Linked DNA regions of Homo sapiens. The protein of the gene in region 4 interacts with the protein of the main gene of each other region in a biochemical or structural test. Each region holds a gene or a part of one and is shown on either strand. Other genes may lie near its edges.

What was found. The genes of interacting proteins can lie anywhere in the genome.
Region 1: the proteins of PDZK1 (region 4) and REELD1 interact in a test that uses a peptide from one of them, tested with the Homo sapiens proteins (one large-scale study listed by IntAct).
Region 2: the proteins of PDZK1 (region 4) and KIRREL2 interact in a test that uses a peptide from one of them, tested with the Homo sapiens proteins (one large-scale study listed by IntAct).
Region 3: the proteins of PDZK1 (region 4) and GUCY1A2 interact in a test that uses a peptide from one of them, tested with the Homo sapiens proteins (one large-scale study listed by IntAct).

The regions. Positions count from the first base shown.
Region 1 is NC_000004.12:146,228,038-146,232,209, reverse strand, and holds part of REELD1 (reelin domain-containing protein 1 precursor), read right to left. Parts: intron 4,001-4,172; coding exon 3,688-4,000; intron 3,186-3,687; coding exon 3,122-3,185; intron 2,306-3,121; coding exon 1,697-2,305; 3' UTR 1-1,696.
Region 2 is NC_000019.10:35,855,598-35,860,382, reverse strand, and holds the start of KIRREL2 (kin of IRRE-like protein 2 isoform c precursor), read right to left. Parts: upstream 3,473-4,785; 5' UTR 3,264-3,472; coding exon 3,203-3,263; intron 3,039-3,202; coding exon 2,889-3,038; intron 1,976-2,888; coding exon 1,826-1,975; intron 1,680-1,825; coding exon 1,519-1,679; intron 903-1,518; coding exon 752-902; intron 87-751; coding exon 1-86. UniProt on the Homo sapiens protein: May regulate basal insulin secretion.
Region 3 is NC_000011.10:106,937,805-106,941,976, forward strand, and holds part of GUCY1A2 (guanylate cyclase soluble subunit alpha-2), read right to left. Parts: intron 2,375-4,172; coding exon 1,656-2,374; intron 1-1,655. UniProt on the Homo sapiens protein: Has guanylyl cyclase on binding to the beta-1 subunit. Isoform 2 acts as a negative regulator of guanylyl cyclase activity as it forms non-functional heterodimers with the beta subunits.
Region 4 is NC_000001.11:145,682,575-145,687,418, forward strand, and holds part of PDZK1 (Na(+)/H(+) exchange regulatory cofactor NHE-RF3), read right to left. Parts: intron 4,153-4,844; coding exon 3,903-4,152; intron 63-3,902; coding exon 1-62. UniProt on the Homo sapiens protein: A scaffold protein that connects plasma membrane proteins and regulatory components, regulating their surface expression in epithelial cells apical domains.

The sequences.
Region 1 (4,172 bases), on a different chromosome or scaffold from region 4:
AATAGACAAGCAAAACAGTCTGTTTACATAGGAAAATTCTCTCTTAGACAGAAAAGATCTAAAAAAGTTTGCATACATGGTGCATCTGGCTCTGATGTGATGTGGCCAGATGAAAGCTCTCCACTAATGGGGTCCCTTGTTTGCTTCTTGGGGAGAACGTCTTTTAGAGGGCTAGACATACAGAAGGGATATCTGTGGCCTTATTAGACTACAGTACTTTTGTTTCTTTCCACAGTATTCCTAGAACACTTTCATTTGTGAATGCACAAATTACCTAGGTCTCCATGCATCTAATGGCTGAAGCCAGGGAACAGAGCTACCTAGCCCAGAATCCAGGAGGAGAGAGTCTTGGAATTGATGACCAATGAGCTAAAGCGAGGTGTGGAAAAGGCAGGAGCTGTCTCTTTCCTGAACACTCAATTTTTAAAAATTGTTAAATTGAGGTATAAGGAAAGCCTCATTCTCCTTGGAAAGCTACTGAACTTATTCCTCATTAAATTTTTGTGAGAGTTAAATGTGAAGATATACGCAAACTACTTAGCACAGTTCCCGTATGAATTAGGTGTTCAATAAACAAATATCCTTTCCGAATTTGTAGTGATTTTTGTTTCTGCATTAAAATGATGACTCTATAATAGGTTTCACTCTGAAAAGGCAGCTAATTCCTATGTGCTATATTAGGTGAGCATATTTAAGAGTTATATTCAGATCTGTTGTTTTGACCTCAGATAGTATCTGTGGAGCCACTGTTAAATCAAAGCAATCTTCATAAGGTTATGAGATCAGGTAGATGACCTTCATCCATGAAGCTTTCTTCCTGATATTCCCTGAAAAGACAAGTAAAGACTGTTCTTCAAACTATGCTGGTATAATAATGTTTTTCAGCCTGACCTTTGGCAAAAGGCACTATGTCTGCTAGCTGTTGGGATACACGAATGTTTCCATCAAGTGTAAATGGATGGGAGGTCTCAGATCCATTTACACCTGATGAAAAGGCTTTCTTACCCCACTCTGGTGTTTACGGCCTTGTGTTGCATGTATATGTTTTCCTGAAGATGTGTTCAATCAAGCTCTCAAAAACTTTCCTGACTTTGGATCAATTTCCATGGCGGATTTGCCAGGCTGCTGAGTTGCCCAGAAGACCAAATACCCTTGCATTCACCTAGTCATCCAAATCAGAACTCTAGCAAGTTGTTGAATTCAGTTTTGAAAAGAAAACTTCTTTGGGGGTGGTTTAGGAAGGCAAAGTGAGAGCTGCAGTTCTTTTTCTTGCAGGAGACACAACCCAACATTACTTTTTTTCCCCAAAGAGTTAGAAGAGATGAGACACTAAGGAGGGACAGTATTTTTATTTCTATGGCTTCCTTACCACAACAGAGGAAGCTTAGTGGCCACAGGGGTCTAGTTAATGAGCGGGTTATACAATATTCATTGTGTTGAGTTTAAGTCTTCAAACAGAACGTCTAATTGCAAAAAGAAAGAAGGAAGCCCAATTACAGATGTTAAGACAACAAAGCTCAGGAATAACTCCCTCTGTTGATGAAAGTGTCCTCTCCCGGGTTCCTCCACTAACTGCACATTGACAGAGGCACAATGAGTCCCTGTCTTCATCAGTTATTCTCATTATCTCTGCTCTGTCTGGGACACTCTCCAGGGCCCAAGGAGGGCCACTGAGAGGTCTGGGGTGACAGTCTTCTCAGAGGACTGTTTTCTTGCTACCCACAGAAGGAGTGATCCAGTTGTACTCTGCTTGAACCAAAACAAAACTGTTCTCCCCAATCTTCCTGACGTGCACAGTCTCACCACTGTTGCTCCTGGCAACAGCATCCGAAGCGGGCTCACTGAAAGACACTTCTGTCTGCTGGTGGCAATACTGGGTGTGCAGGTAGCGAAGGCCAGCGGCCAGGGCCATGCCCAGGGTGGCTGACAGGCAAAGCAGAATTCCCAGCTGAGGAGTTCTGAGCTGGATACCCAGAGGGGCCTGGGCTCCCTCTAGCCCAATGTCAGGCCGTGGGTTGGTCTGCCGAGGGTATCCCACTCCACCCTCTCCATTTCCCTTCCCTGCTCTGAGCTCCTTGTGCTTTGACTGAGGTAAGAAGCTGGCAGAGGCCCTGGATGCCTCTGACTGGTCACCAGCAGCAGGTAGCCCAGAAGTGCCAGAGGTCTGGAGGACAGGGATTGGGTTGCTTGCCCTGACCCCATTCCCTGTGAAAGTTTCAGAGGACCAGAGGCACTGGGGATAGGTAAGCTGGACGGTGGACAGAGGAGGCTGTGTCACGGTCCTGTTAGAGGCCTTCGTCTTGTCCTAGAAAAACAAAGGGAAAAAAGAGTCAAAGGTACTGGTCTTCCTCCTAAGCTGCCACTGAACTTTGTAACTAACTGGGGTTCCTTAAAGACTCCCAGGAGGCAGCTAAAAACCCAGTCTCTTTCTTGCTACTAAAGGAGCTCAAAGTAAAATGCCCAACTAGATACAAATGCACTTGTTATTGATGGGGATGGGGTAGCTAATGGAAACCCCACAGAGAACAAGGAAGCCAGTTACAAGAATAAGCTTAGGGTCCTTTAAGTGGCTTCCAAACCAAAATATCAATGGGTGATTGCATCATCTTCTATGGCTGAGAGATTTGAGTGTGTCTTCTTATGATAGGACCCATGCAAGAGGGACCATTTAACCTCACTGTAGGTTCTGAGAAATGTAAGTAAGAACATTACACCTTGTTTTATTTTGTGTTCCTTCTAAGACTTCAAAGGAATAGTAAATCAGTGGGCATTTATATTTTATATTGACCATTGATCTAACTTCTGGGACCATACATGGCATTTTGAGGTCAATGTTATGAAGGAGGGATAGAGGAGGAGAGAAGAGAGTAATTATTAACTGTGGCTAAGTGAGAAGACAAGTCACTAAAACATCAATTTCTACAATTGCCGATCACTTCAGAGACACTGCATATAATGGAAAGGTATTGATTAGTAGAAAGACACTGTGTGTATATTGTACTTTGCCTTCTTCTCTCTAACTTTGGCTACTAGTCTAATAGCTCTGATTTCCCAGCCTGAAACTGACCATTCTAGGATCAAAATACCAGTCACAAGCCCACTTCACAGTTCAGGTTCTTACCTGTTCACCCCCATCTGAGGACAGGCAAGTTTCCAGTGAATCAAAGCTGGGATCATCCTGAGTTCTAAAGGGAAGAATGGAAGGGCTGAAAACAGGTCATTAAGTTTTGGACCAAAAAGCAATGTTTCCTACCACAGTTGTGTATGCAGATGGCAACAGATTCACTTGAAAAACTTCTGATTTTGGAGTCAGGAACCATAGAGAAGAGGAAGGGGAGAGATGAGTGAGAATGGTGGCAAAGAACTCACCAAATGCTGTCGCTTATTATTTTATATAAAATATACATTTCTATGTTGTTATTATAAATATATTTAAAATATAAAAAGTCACTTTTAAAGTTTTACTTATAACAGCACCTCAGAGATCTCACCCCATCCAAGAAAATAATTTCCCTGGGTAATTAACATACCCAGTCCTTCTGACAAGTAGCCCTGCTACATCCTGGGTTTTTCACACACTTAAGAAAAAATATGGCTGAGATCTTTTTTGTCAGACTCCACATGATGCACTCCAGTGTTCATCCTAGTCCCATCACCTGTCCTGAATGGCCCACCCATCACCCTTACCTGTGATGGGTGCTAAGGCTGGAAGCAAAGCTCTCTGAGGAGACTCTCTTGAGGGCCACGAGCCTCTCCAGCCTGTGGACCTCCAGGGACGGCTCTAGGGTGGGATTGCTGTCCCCGCTGGGTTGCTGGTTGATGCTGCCTTCAGTGGCTGTGTGTGAAGATGGTTGGGACAGAGTCTCTGCATCCCCAGGAAACTTTGTCACCCAAATACTGGCAGGAACAGGATCTAGGTTGTCCTCCTCTGCAGCTCCAGGAAGGGCAACAGCAAAGACATGTGTGTGCTGCTGTGGAAGAGTGATGGGGGTCCTGGGAGCTAAGCAGAGGTCCAAAGACAGCGCAGAGTGAGTGAGAGCATTTTCCCCGCATCGATTGTTACAAACAGCTATGATCAGGGGTAAACAGCAGTGACTCTAATATGCCTCAAGGAGAGACCATTAAGTGTGAGGCACTTAAAAGTGTCAGCATAAAGATGACCTGCCTGATCA
Region 2 (4,785 bases), on a different chromosome or scaffold from region 4:
CTGGGCTGTGGCCTGGCACAGGAAAATGACCTTCTCTCCCTCCTGCACAGTGTGTGGCGAAGCAGACAGAGTCACCTCTGGGGGGTCTGTGAGGGTGGGACAATGGTCAGATGGGCAAGGACCAGGAACACCTCCGTCACTGGCCTAGGTGTCCAGTCCCTGGTTCCTCCATCCCAGGAGTCTGGGCCCCTAATCCCCTTCTCCCTTTGAGCCAGGAGTCTGGGCTTTCAGTTCCCAATTTCCCCAGTTACCTCAATGTGCCAGCCTTCTGCCCTCTCCTAGTCTCCCCGATGTGAGAGTCAAGGCCCAGCTTTCTCTTTCCCCAGGGACCCCAGCTGTCTGTCCTCTCCTGCTCGGAGTCTCACTCTGCTGCTGAGTGGCATGATCTCGGCTCACCGCAACATCTGCCTCCCGGGTACAAGTGATTCTCCTGCCTCAGCCTCCCAGGTAGCTGGAATTACAAGTGTGTGCTACCACGCCCGGCAAATTTTTGTATTTTTAGTAGAGACGGGGTTTCGACATGTTAGCCAGACTGGTCTCGAACTCCTGATCTTAGATGATCCGCCTGCCTCGACCTCCCAAAGTTCTGTGAGTACAGGCGTGAGCTACCATACCCAGCCCTCTCCTGCTATCTTAGATCCAGGAGTCCAGGCTCCAGTTTCCTCATTCCCCAAGGGCCACAGTCCCCTCCTTCCTCATACCCAGGAGTCAGGGCCCCACACCCCTCTTTCCCAGGGCCAGCTGCACTCACACTGCAGGCTCAGTGTGATAGCTGTGTCTCTTCCTGTGGGCAGGGCCTGGCTCCGGGCCCGGCAGACAAAGGTGGCTCCATCATCATGGCTGAAAGGGGTCAGGGTTAAGGTGCTCTCCACTGACCCAGGGGTCCCTTCCTTCAGCAGGGTCTGGAGGGAAGGATAAGAATAATAATGCCATCTACCCATCAGGGGTGTCCAATCTTTTGGCTTTCCTGGGCCACATTGGAAGAAGAATTGTCTTAGGCCACACATACTAACACTAATGATAGCTGATGAGCTAAAAAATTACAAAAAAGTCTCATAATGTTTTAAGAAAGTTTATGAATTTGTGGTGGGCCACATTCAAAGCCATCCTGGGCTGCATGCAGCCCATGGGCCGCAGGTTGGACAAGCTTGCCTTACTTATATAGTGCTCACTATGTATTGGTCACTCTTCTGGGCATTTATAGGTATTTATTTATTTAATTCTCACAATACCCTATGACATGCATGCTACTATTATCCTGATTGTATAGATAAGGCAACTGAGGCACAGAGAGGTTAACTAACTTACTCAAGATCAATCAACTAGCAAGTGGCTGAGACATAATTTGAACCCAGGTAGTCTGGCCCTAGAATCTTTACCCTGCATCATATTTCAAGAGTCCAAACCCATGAACCTCTGCCCTCCCATGTCTTCTTCTCTTCTGGATGAGCCTGTGGTCAGAGTGTAACCCAAGTTTCCCTCAATGGGCAAAGGCTAGCACAGGAATTTGGACCTGACCTGATGGAAGGTGGCTCCATCCAACAGGACCCCATCTCGGAACCACAGCAATTCAGGGGTAGGGCGGGCATCCCCACGGCTCCGACATGTCAGGTTCGCAGGAACTCCAGCAACCAGAGACACAGAGGGGCCGCCCAGCACCTGGGGGGCTTCTGGGGGGACTGCAAGGTGGATTTGGGGTCAGAGATGGATCCTGATCTTCTCAGCTCCAATTGACCATGCCCCTGGGCTCCCTGGGCTCTGCTACTCACAGCTAGTACGGGCTGCCCTCTTGGGCTCCCAGGGGACAAGTGGGCGAGGTCCTTACCCAGCACGTGCAGTTGGGCTGGTCTGGAGCGGAGGCCTGCTTGTGTAGCCTGACATTCATATGATGCTTCATCCTCTAGCTCCACGGGCCTAATGTGGAGGTCATGCTGGCCATTGGCTGCATTCCCTGATATCCAGTACCGGGACCACCCTGGAGTCAGGGAGAAGGCAGTCAGCACACCATGGTTCTGAAATCCTGGCCTCAGGCCTCCATCCCCAGACATCCTCCACCAGAAAACTGGCCCACACATTTGGTGGTAAGACACTATTAAAAAGTGTGTACTGGGCCCAGAGAGACTCTAACTCCCTCCCAACCCAGAGTCACTGCAAACTTAGGGGTAATAAAGTCAGGAAGGAAAGCAAGAAAATGATTGCCATAAAAATTAGGTTAGATACTACTTCTGGAGTGAGGGGGAGGGGGCTATGATAGGGGAAAGGAACACGGGGTCTTCTGGGGAGCTAGCAATGGACTTGGGTATTGGCTGTGTGTGTCTATTTTATTTGGTAAATCTTCCATTTATATTTACTGTACTTTTTTGCATTTATGTTCTCTTTTTTTTTTTTTTTTGAGACAGGGTCTCACCATTGCCTGAAGTGCAGTGGCTTGATCATGGCTCACTGCAGCCTTGAACTCCTAGGCTCAAGCAATCCTACCACCTAAGCCTCCTGAGTAACTGGGACTATAGATGCACACCACCATACCCGGCTAATTTGTTTAAAATATATATATACATTTGTGTAGAGATAAGGTCTTGTTATGTTGCCCAGGCTGGTCTCAAACTCCTGGTTTCAAGCGATCCTCTGGCCTCAACCTCCCAAAGCGTTGGGATTACAGGCGTGAGCCACTGCACCTGGCCTATGTACTATTTTGCAATAACATAATAATTCCCAAACTCCGTGGGTCACCCCCAAAGAAGCAGCTCAAAAATCAGGACTCCTAAATGTTTACCCGAGCCCATCAATTTCCCAAACTTGAAAATGTCAAAATAGAAACTGCAGGTACAGCCGAGCCCAGCAACTCTCCCCCTAGCCAGCCCGTCCCAGCGTGGAGAGAACACTCTTACCTGGTAGGTCCCTTTGGCCCCCTAGGGCCAGCCCACTCTTAGTCCACTGAACTAGCCCCCAGTAGGCGCCCAGAGCACACGGCAGCCGGGCTTCCTCCCCCAGCAGCACCACCAGGTCCTCTGGCTGTTGCAGGAAATGGGGCGACGGGCCTAGGAGAGTTCGGGGCAGCAGGGCTGAGCTTAGCACCTTCAGGGGCCTCCTCATTCAGGACCCAGGAGTCCCAGCCCCCAGCTCCCTTCTCGCTAGTGAAGAGGCAGCCCGCAAGCAACTCCCCACCCCCACCCCATATTCCTCCGCTCCCCTCGTGCGGTACCTGCTCTCCCTCTGAAGCAGAAGAGGAGGACGAGGAGGGCGGGGACCCGCATCCTGAGCATTCGTCCCCCAAGGTTCACGAGATTTGCCGTCGCACTGGCCTTCCCGTCAACTTCTTCCTCTCAAGCACGCCTCCTGTCACCCTGGCCCGGAGCCCCCTTCACGCTCGACTCTTCGCCCAGCCTAGTCTCTGGCCTGGAGTCCTCCAAGTCTGCTCATCCGCAGCCTCTGACGCTCTGAAACGCCTGCCAGTTCCGCGGCCTGGGTCTCTGGGAGACCCCAAGAGGGCCCGATCCCGCTCGCCCCGCCCGGGTCCGCCCCCCGGGAGCTCCGCCCTCTTCCCGTTGAGAAACTCCCGCGGCTGAGACGCGGATGAATGGGGGACGCAGGGCGGGATCCCCCGGCGGGTGGGCGCCCCCAGCTCAATTGGGGTCTGGGAGCCGGAACACCTGGGTTCGAGGAGGGAGGGGGTCCCGGCTGGGTTGGACACCTGCGCCCTGCCGGGGTTGAGGGGCAGGCAAGGGGTGAGGAGGAGGGAAGGGAGAGAGTGGAAGAAACTTGCTCAGCCCAGGTCCTAGAGGGACTGCGCTCAGTGGAAACTGAGCTATAAATGGGAGCTCCTGGGGCCTCGCCAGTTTCCGCGCCCTGGGGGATGCGGGGTCCGGGGCTCCCCCGGGCCTGCGTGTCGGGAAGAGGGCACACCGATACCTGGGGGACAGTTGGGACCCCTACCTCGACTCCCCCAGCCTCAAAACCCCTCCTCAAAATATCCCTCTGTTCCCTTGTTATTGCTGCAAACTACAGCACGTCCTAAGACCCAGGAATCCAGGCCCTCGGCCCCTCCTTTCCCAGGACCCCGCAGTCCCAGCCCAACCCCTCTCCCCACTCGGCCGGCCGGGCCCCTCGGCCTGGTTGCCCGGCGACGGCTGGGAGGCGGCGGTGCCGGGCCGGGGCAGGCAGGGAGGCTGGGAACCGCGCAGCTTGTCCTGACGGCTCCATGCAGCCCAGCTGGGGCGTTCCCACGCTGCGCAGCTGGCCGAGCAGGTGGGAGGGACCCCGAGCAGCCTGAAGGAGGGCTGGGGGGCTGGGACCCTGATCTGACATTCCTGGACCTGTAAGAACTGGAGGGTCCACATTCAGATTCTCCACTGTTCTTAGGCTCAGACTCCGTGTCCCTAAATGGGGGAGTGGGGTTGGGAGTGGGGGTTGGACTTACAGGGTTATAAGGGACTGGTGGTTCAGGCCTTTGCTGGCTGAGACGCTGATGGCCTGATCTCCCGGTTCCTTGAGAGGCTGGAGACTCAAGGTGCACTCAAGTGCATGGTGCACTTGGAAGAGGGTGACAGGGGTCAGAATATCTGGTCTTAAGTCTTAAGAGTCGGTGGATCTATCTGCCAATCTCTCCCCACCCCCACACAGGCCCAGGAGGATTTGGAAATCAGACCGTGAACATCTGTCCTAAGTCCTGTGTGTATGTGTGTGTGTGTGTGTGTGTGTGTGTGTGTGTGTGTGTGTGTGTGTGTGTATGGGGAGGTGCGGGGGTGGGTAGTGTGGCCAGGAGGATCAGAGGCCCAAATTCCCGAG
Region 3 (4,172 bases), on a different chromosome or scaffold from region 4:
ATGTGCCAAACTGGAATCCAGGTCTATCCTTAGATATTTTCAAATCACTGAACTTGTATGATAAAAACATTATTAATTTCCTAAACCACCTGATTTCGTCATATTGAATAAATGTGCATCTTTCTATCATTCTCAAATAATTTTTTTTTTGAGACAGAGTCTCACTCTTGTCACCCAGGCTGGAGTGCAGTGGCATGATCTCAGCTCACTGCAGCCTCTGCCTCCTGGGTTCAAGCGATTCTCCTGTCTCAGCCTCCTGAGTAGCTGGGATTACAGGCACCCGCCACCATGCCCAGCTCGTTTTTTTGTGTTTTTGGTAGAGATGGGGTTTCATCATGTTGGCCAGGCTGGTCTCAAACTCCTGACCTCAGGTGATCGATCTGCCCACCTCGGCCTCCCAAAGTGTTGGGATTACAGGTGTGAGCCACCACACCCAGCCATCTTTCTCGAATATTTTTTTTAAAAAACTTTCCATTGAACTTCAAAATTATAAAAATCATCAATCATGAAACTAATGCTGTATAAAATCCTCAAAAACAAGTTAAGCGCTGCTTTCAGAGGGCTATTTCCTCATTTATTTATTATTATTCCAGAATATGTATATTTTCACTGAGTCTTTAATTACTTCTACAACTCTTCTTTCCTTTAGCCCAGAGCAACCTGTCATTTCTAATAGCTAATAGCTTCCCTCAAATGCTTGGAAACAGGCTAAATAGCCTAAAAGAACTTTATTTACCCTAGTACAAAATGTTGAAAAGACACTCTACTGGAAACTGAATGGAACTATACAAATTTCTGTCCTGGAAATTAATGTTGTTTTTCCGTTTAATCACTGAAAGCATATTACTAAACATAAAAAATCATGGTTTATTTTTCTTTACATTTTATTATCTATTTTAATGTTGACTTTTTAAAATATTTTACCTGAGGGACAAAATGTTCATTTAAACCCAAATATTTTAAGATTTATTTCTGGTGTCTTTTCATCAATTATTTATAATTTATAATCCAGATTTCCCAAAGGGGATTCAAAGAAATCCACAAAAAATTTCCTAGTCTTCACTTTATTCTCTCAACTAGAGATCATGTTCTAAAGCAATGAATCTCTATTTTAATACTAAAATTTAAACAGAAGTCTCGAGATAGTCAATTCTCAGCTTTTGGGGAATACATTATTCTGCATATTAAGACAAAAATAGGATGTAAACCAGATGTTCCCAGATTATGAAATTTAGAAAAGAACATATTCAAAGTGAAGGTAACTTTTAGCATATGTATTTAAAGATATTGCAGTCACGCCCCACAATATTGAAATGCTATATTTCTCATAGTTTGACTACATTCAGTGGAAATATTCATGTGTTTATATTATCAGGTTTTTAGTGAGTTCTATCATTTTTGTAATTGCTATAGCTAGTATTAATAAATGTCTTCTTTTTATATGCTGAAATAAATTAATGGAGGAGGCAGACACTATGCAAAATGGCTGGGAATGAGGCCAAATCTTTTTACATACATCCAGGGACCAGTAATCTTCTAAATGGCACTTTAAGCTCTCTTGCCTAAATAATTACAAGTACAGCCACCATGTAATTTACTGAAATAATTATCCACTCTTCTAGTTCCCATCACCATCTCAAGTCCATAGCACTTACCTTGTCTTTATTTTCAGAGCCAGAAGCCTCAGGCTTGGTTCTAATCACAAACGGGGTAGACAGTCGCAGCAGGACCCTTTCAAAGGTGGCATTAACCTTTGGAGATACAATCTCGAAGCAGTCCTCAAACTTGAGCACTTTGTGAGTGTCACATCGAAGCTGCTTCCTTAGACCTTCCCCCAACTGAAGGACTGACATGCTGGGATCAAACATCAAGTGGAAAGGGAAGGCTCTACAGAAGGTGTTGATGCTAATTCTGAGGTCCGCAGGAACTTGGGAGGTTCCCTGTGGAAGGTTCTTCATGATATTAGTATTTTCACATTCTTTGATAAGGAAAGTAAGACAGCTACAATTGCCTGGGTTTGAAACATCAGAGCATAGCTTCTCATTTGCAACCTGTTCCACTTCCACATCCAGCCGATAGATCTTCTTTCCTGCAGCCTTAATCATCCCCAGCATTGCAAACCCCACAATATGGTGAGGGTGGAAGTAGTGGAGCATGAGAGTACCTTCAGGGAGCTCTTTGCATAGGAAAGATGGTGACTCCAGAGTGGCCTGTTTTCCAAAAGAAGTTCTAATGTGTTCCAACAAAGCATCAAAGCCGTTAAAAAAGTCCTGCAAAGTGCCACCTACAGCTCGAAGGACTCTCTCATTCTCATGAAAGCATATATTAAAGAACTCTTCACCAAATCTTTTTTGAATTTCCTCAAACTTCAAACCTAGAGGTAAATGGGAAGCAAATGTTAGTGAAGTCTAATATAAATAATTGAATTTATAGCTTTTTAAGTGCTTATCAAAAGAGTAACTACTGAATAAAGTAACAAAGGTTATTTCTCTTAGATCCACAAATTTCCACATAGGTTAATTCACTCATCTTGAATCAGAAAATATAAATTTCAGTTCATCTTCAGGATGCCTCTAAAATGTTAATGAACATGAACCTTTTTGTTTGTTTTTAAATAGACTACATATTTTTAGACCAGTTTTAGAGTCACAGCAAAATTGAGCAGAAGGCACAGTTATTTCCCATATCTCTCTGCCCCGACACATGCACAGCCTGCCCCATTATCATATCTCCCACCAGAGTGGTACATTTATTACAATCCATGAACCTACATGATGCATTATTATCATCCAAATTCCATGGTTTACATTAAGGCTCACTCTTAATATTGTATATTCTGTGGGCTTAAACAAATGTATAATGATATGTATACACTTATCATATCACTTAGAGCATTTTCACTGCCCTAAAAATCCTGTTTATCCCTTCCTTCTCCCTAACTCCCAGAGCATCAGCTTTTTAAATGTTGCTAATCTAGCTGTTCACCTTTCAATAGCCTTGCAGTAGTTATCATAAATAATATATTTTTCTTTTTCTTAATGATTTCCCCATTCTTCACAGAATATCCAAGTTGCCTACATATTATGTCCATATTACATCCATATTATCATCTTACTTCTTATCGAAATGCATGTATTAAGTGGAAAATATAAACCAGAAAAGAAATCTATGGCACATGAATGGGGATAGGCATCAAGCTATCTGGTGGAAACAAAAGGCTTACATTAGCAATCTCAGGGAAAGACATGCAGGTCAGCTAGACCTCAGGGAAAAGGAGAAAAAACAAGAAAATAATAATGACAGAACTCTGGAATGATTTACATTCTTTCACCCACAAAAGTAAGGGCAGCCAAGCATGGAGGAGGAATCTGATGAGACAGAATTAAAGGTTATTGTTAAGTTTTCTCCATATATAATCACTCCCTGATGCCCTGGCAAAAGAGTTCCACCTTATAGTGCTGGATATTACAATGAAAAATAAATAAGTGTGCACAATGTATTCTATCGTAATAAGAAGCAGGATCACATGTGATCACAAGATCCCCCCCTTGAGGATGATATGAGGAAAAATGAGGGAATTTATGTGCCAAAGAGGACTATAACACATACAAAAGATTTTGGCCTGCATATTAAAGACAGCTTCTACCTAAACTCTATTGCTTCTCCTTTGACATTGGTTGAAATCAATACATGTAGTTTACATATTCATATTTTCTTGCCCCATTTCCATCATCTCATTTGAAGTCCTGCAAATCAGGCAGGACTGGGAAAAGAAGGTCACTTTGCTAGCGCCCCATTAGAGTGCAGAGCAATCTAGGCTGTCTACAGCTTAGCTGCTTTCCTACCTTTATCATTCCCTGAGTGTTCCTCCCAGCCAGAAGTGAGGCAAATGAACAGAGTGAATAATATTGTTTTTAAAATAGTCAAAGCACATCTAATATTCTTTAAGAGCTTACTATAGAGTCTAAAACTTCTGGTAGCCAAGAAGTCAGTTTGACAAAGAACTTCTTAAAATCAATGTGATAGGAAAATGAGTAGAAAACCTAAGTGAGAAACAGTCCCTTTATTAATAAGCATTTCATATTCATTTTGGTTTCATGGATTGGATGCTCAAGACTTGTTGAGAAAGTCACTTATTAAGATAAAAATATCACCACTCATGTCACATTGCC
Region 4 (4,844 bases):
AACTCCAGCTCTCATAGCCACACCTTGAGGTGTAATATCAGTCATGTACACCCCCTTTTTACCTGGAAGAGAGTAGGGGTAAACTCCATGTGGAGACACAAGTGACTCCCTCTTGGATGGTAATCTGTGATGTTGACTTCTGATTAGCCCCAGTCCTGTGATTGCCTCCCGATTTCTACTTCATTTACTGTCCCTAGTCTAAGAACATGTCAACCTTAATGTTATCACGCAAATTATAGGCTATGATGCACTATAGCATTCTTGGCTATTGCGGAGGGCTGCCTTCGATTGTCTTGCTGGAGCACATATACCCTTTCCCTATGGTATATCAGCCTTGGGTCTGGGGAGTAACACAGAGATCTACATGTTTTGTGGCTGTCCAAGACCATGCTTCTGTTCGTAAGTTCCCCTGATAAATTCCAATGTACCAACAAACTGGATTTGCCTGCCTTGTCCTTTGGTTTCTCAGCTCCTTTGGCCTTTGAGGGACTGCTTTGCATACACCACCCTTTCACAGAACACTCCATTGCAAAGAAAAACTCGAAATCCAATGGTAAAGACTTTTCTCCCAATAATGTGAAACAAACTTCCGATTTTAGAGCTAACTCGGCCTTTGGCTTCTGATCTAAAATCACAGTTATAGGTCCTGGCACTGAACTTGACACAGCCTTTACTCAGTGGGTATTTGTTGATTTGAATAGAATTTCTGAGGTCAGCTAAATGCAAAGATGGAATCTTGGGTGGCCTTGGCCCCTTGAACCAGAAAGCGCTAAAACATGCCCACACTGCATTATTGTGTCATACGCCCTTTCTTTGCATTTGTAGAATCAGAAAGCATCTTTACCATTCTCTCCTCTTCAGTTTGTACTATTATATTAGCCATCGTATGCTGTGGAGTCATCTCACCAATGTAGGCTAACAAGGACAGGCACAGGAGGGAGGGAAGAACCCGAATGCATTTAGGTGGTGAGATTTAGGTGCTACTTATAGAAATGCTGTCAATTCTTCAAAGATATTAATAGAGCAGTTCCCCCTTAACCATGGGGGATACATTCCAAGACCCCCAGTGGAGGCCTGAAACTTTAAGATAGTATACCGAACCCTATATGTTTTTTCCTGTGCTTACATACCTACAATAGAGTTTAACTTATAAATTAGGCACAGTAAGAGATTAACAATAACTGAGCTAATCTTAGCAACCTCAGCATACAGTATTTTTTCTTTCCTTATTAAATCGAGAACTTTTCACTTAATAGAAGCACTTTACAGCCTTTTTTTTTTTTTTTTTAACAGATGGAGTCTCGCTCTGTCACCTAGGCTGGAACGCAGGGCCGCAATCTTGGCTCACAGCAACCTCTGCCTCCCCGGTTCAAGCGATTCTCCTGCCTCAGCCTCTCGAGTAGCTGGGACTACAGGCGCCTGCCACCGCGCCTGGCTAATTTTTGTATTTTTAGTAGAGATGGGGTTTCGCCATGTTGGCCAGGCTTGTCTCGAACTCCTGACCTCAGGTAATCCACTCGCCTCGCACTCTCAAAGCGCTAGGATTACAGATATGAGCCACTGTGCCCGGCCACTTTACAGCTTCTCTTTGTCATATCTGAACTGCCAGCATCACTATCCTTGCATTTTTGGCTTTTTTTTTTTTTTTTTTTGAGACGGAGTCTTGCTTTATCGCCCAGCCTGGAGTGCAGTGGCGCAATCTGAGCTCACTGCAACCTCCGCCTCCCGGGTTCACACCATTCTCCTGCCTCAGCCTCCTGAGTAGCTGGGACTACAGGCGCCCACCACCACACCCGGCTAATTTTTTGTATTTTTAGTAGAGACAGGGTTTCACCGTGTTAGCCAGGATGGTCTCGATCTCCTGACCTCATGATCTGCCCGCCTCGGCCTCCCAAAGTGCTGGGATTACAGGCGTGAGCCACTGCGCCCGGCCTGAGCTATTATTTTTTATTGATACATAACATTTGTACATATTTATAGGGTGTGTGTCATATTTTGATACCAAGAGCATATAATGAACAAATCAGGGTGTAATATTTAGGACATCCATCCTTGAACATTTATCATTTCTTTGTGTTGAGAATATTTCAAATCTTCTTACAGCTATTTTGAAATGTACAATACATTGTTGTTAACTACAGTCACCCCACTGTGCTATCAAACATTAGAACTTATTCCTTCTCTCTGTGGGTTTGTACCCATTAACCTAGCTCTCTTCATCCCCACCCTACCCCACACACATACCCTTCCCAGCTGCTGGTATCTCTCATTCTACTCTCTACCTCCATGAGATTCACCTTTTTTAGCTCCCACATATGAGAATATGTGATATTTTTCTTTCTGTGCTGGGCCATTATTAAGCAAAATAAGGATTATTTGAACACAGTACTTTAATACCGTGACAGTTGACCTGGTAACTGAGTAGTAAGTAGTAAGACTAACAGGCAGGTAAGCACATGCCACGTGGAGATGCTAGACAAACAGAGGATTCATGTCCAAGACGGGGCAGGACAGCACAAGATTTCATTACACTACTCATAATGGTTCACAATGCAAAAATTATGTATGGAATTTTCCATTTAATATTTTCAGACCACAGTTGCCTGCAGGTAAGGTAACTGAAACTATGGAAAGCCAAACAGGATAAGGGGGGACTCTTGTATGTCAACCTAGGCAAGGGATCGCTTGCTAATGACTACATAAATCACTTGTAAGGAATGACAATAACTTAAACTCTGCTTCCTTAAACACTCAGCATTTCTCCTGCTACCTTGTTATATATTTGTCATGAAGAGACCATTTTCCTCATAAAGCTAACCTAAACCATTCACCATGTGCATTAGCACATGAGCCAGATGAGTAGAATCTGAATTATGATTTTCTTTTTTTTACCACTTTACTGATAATAGGCTTCTAAGACGTGCCAAGCTTCCTTTGACTATACACACCACTGTGTTTAATAACTGACAGACCTGAGAAATACCCCTTATCGTGAGTTTACATCTCTTGGTACAGGTTAAATAAGCCTTAGAAACTATTTTAAATTTACCACTGGTCTGCTGCTGTATCACTTGCCAAATCATGACCTACCACCAGTGCTTCTCCAGCCCCAGAAAGAACATAGGCAGAGGCAGTGTTCAAGAAGGAATTGACCAGCTAACACAGCTCCTCTGGTTCCAACCAATACCCCAGAGCCACGGTCAACTGAACACAGGTTAGTCTGCACCTCTGAAATTCTAGAAATAGAACTTCTGGTGCTTCCTGATGGTCAGGGTTTCTCAAATCACTATGTACCTCTTAGCCAGAGCTCAAAGATGCGCCTCAGAACAGGTGGGGCTGAGCCGCAGCTGAGGGTACTATCAAAATGTTACAGGAGGGTGGAAATTTTTGCGGTATTCTCAGCAAAGGTAACAGTGCCTGGCACATCAGCAGGTGCTCAAGAATTTGTTGAATAAATGAATGACTATCTGGGCACTCAGATAAAAAAAAGATACCAATCTTACTCAAAAATAGCTATTATGAAGAATCTCATTTTTCTTGCCTTTTATTCCTTATTCTGCCCTTCATTTTCACCCTAAGAGGGCTAGAAGCATCAACCCTCTGGCCCCCTGACCTCAAAGAGTCCTCAAGTGCCAGCCTGACAAACACTCAGGGACAGGAGTACCCAGTGCCCCCCACCCCCACTGCTGTCCAGTGTCCCTCCCCCATTGCACAACTGTGCAAGGCAAGGGAAAGGGCAGGGAGGGAGTGAGAGACGGAGGGAGGCAAGCTGTTGCAAGCTATCTATAGCAACTGAAAAGTCAGTCAAAGAAGAAAAGTCATTAACCAGTAGCATCTTTGTTCTGGAAGCCTGTTGTCTGTGCCCTGCCCCTGCCTCCCCCTGCTCCCCAAAAAATTCTCACCTTGGACAGTTTTCAGAGAGAAGCCATAGCTGCCTCCTTCCTTCACGAGATAGCAGAGCCGGGGCTGGGTCCAAGTTTGCACACCTCCATTCATCACAGGGGAAAGTATATTATCACTCAAACCTTGCTCCTTCTGACTTTGACCCAACTCTTTCAAGTCCACCCGTGTTTTCACTGCTTTCTCATAGGAATCCCCATCCAGAACTAGTAAAGTCACTGAATTCCCACTCTTTCTGACCAGATCCACAACCTAGGAGGGAAGAAGAAAAAGGTAACTTTAATAACCCTCTGCCAACTGCCAGAGGGAAATGCTGACCATCTGGCTCAATATCTGGCCCTGGAGATGCTGCTAGTTGACCCTTGACACCCAAGTAGAAGCAGGTAGTTCCTCAGCCACCTCCATCCCTGCCCTCCCGAGATCCAGGTGCAGATTAGGCTGAGCTTCTGGCACTGCTGGAATATAGAGTGTGGTTCAACCCCAGCCCAGAGGGTTCTTACAAGACTGGTCCTTTCTAGAGAGGAGCGCTGCCCTAGATTGTAACCATTCCTCCCGTGTGCATGGGGACAGCACAGTGTAAGGAAAAGACCATGCTTTTGGAGTCAGGCAGAATAAGGTAAGGCCAGACTCTCCCATATATCCTCAGCAGGAACATGTTAGCAAGCTAAGATATCTGTACTTAGCTTCCTAATCTGTGAAATTGTAACATATACCTTATGAGGTCATGATGAGGACTTAACAAGATAATGAATATAAAATTGCTGGCCGAGCGTGGTGGCTCATGCCTGTAATCACTGCACTTTGGGAGGCCGAAGCGGGCGGATCACGAGGTCAGGAGATCGAGACCATCCTGGCTAACACGGTGAAACCCCATCTCTACTAAAAATACAAAAAAAAAAAAAAAGCTGGGTGTGGTGGCGGGTGCCTATAGTCCCAGCTACTTG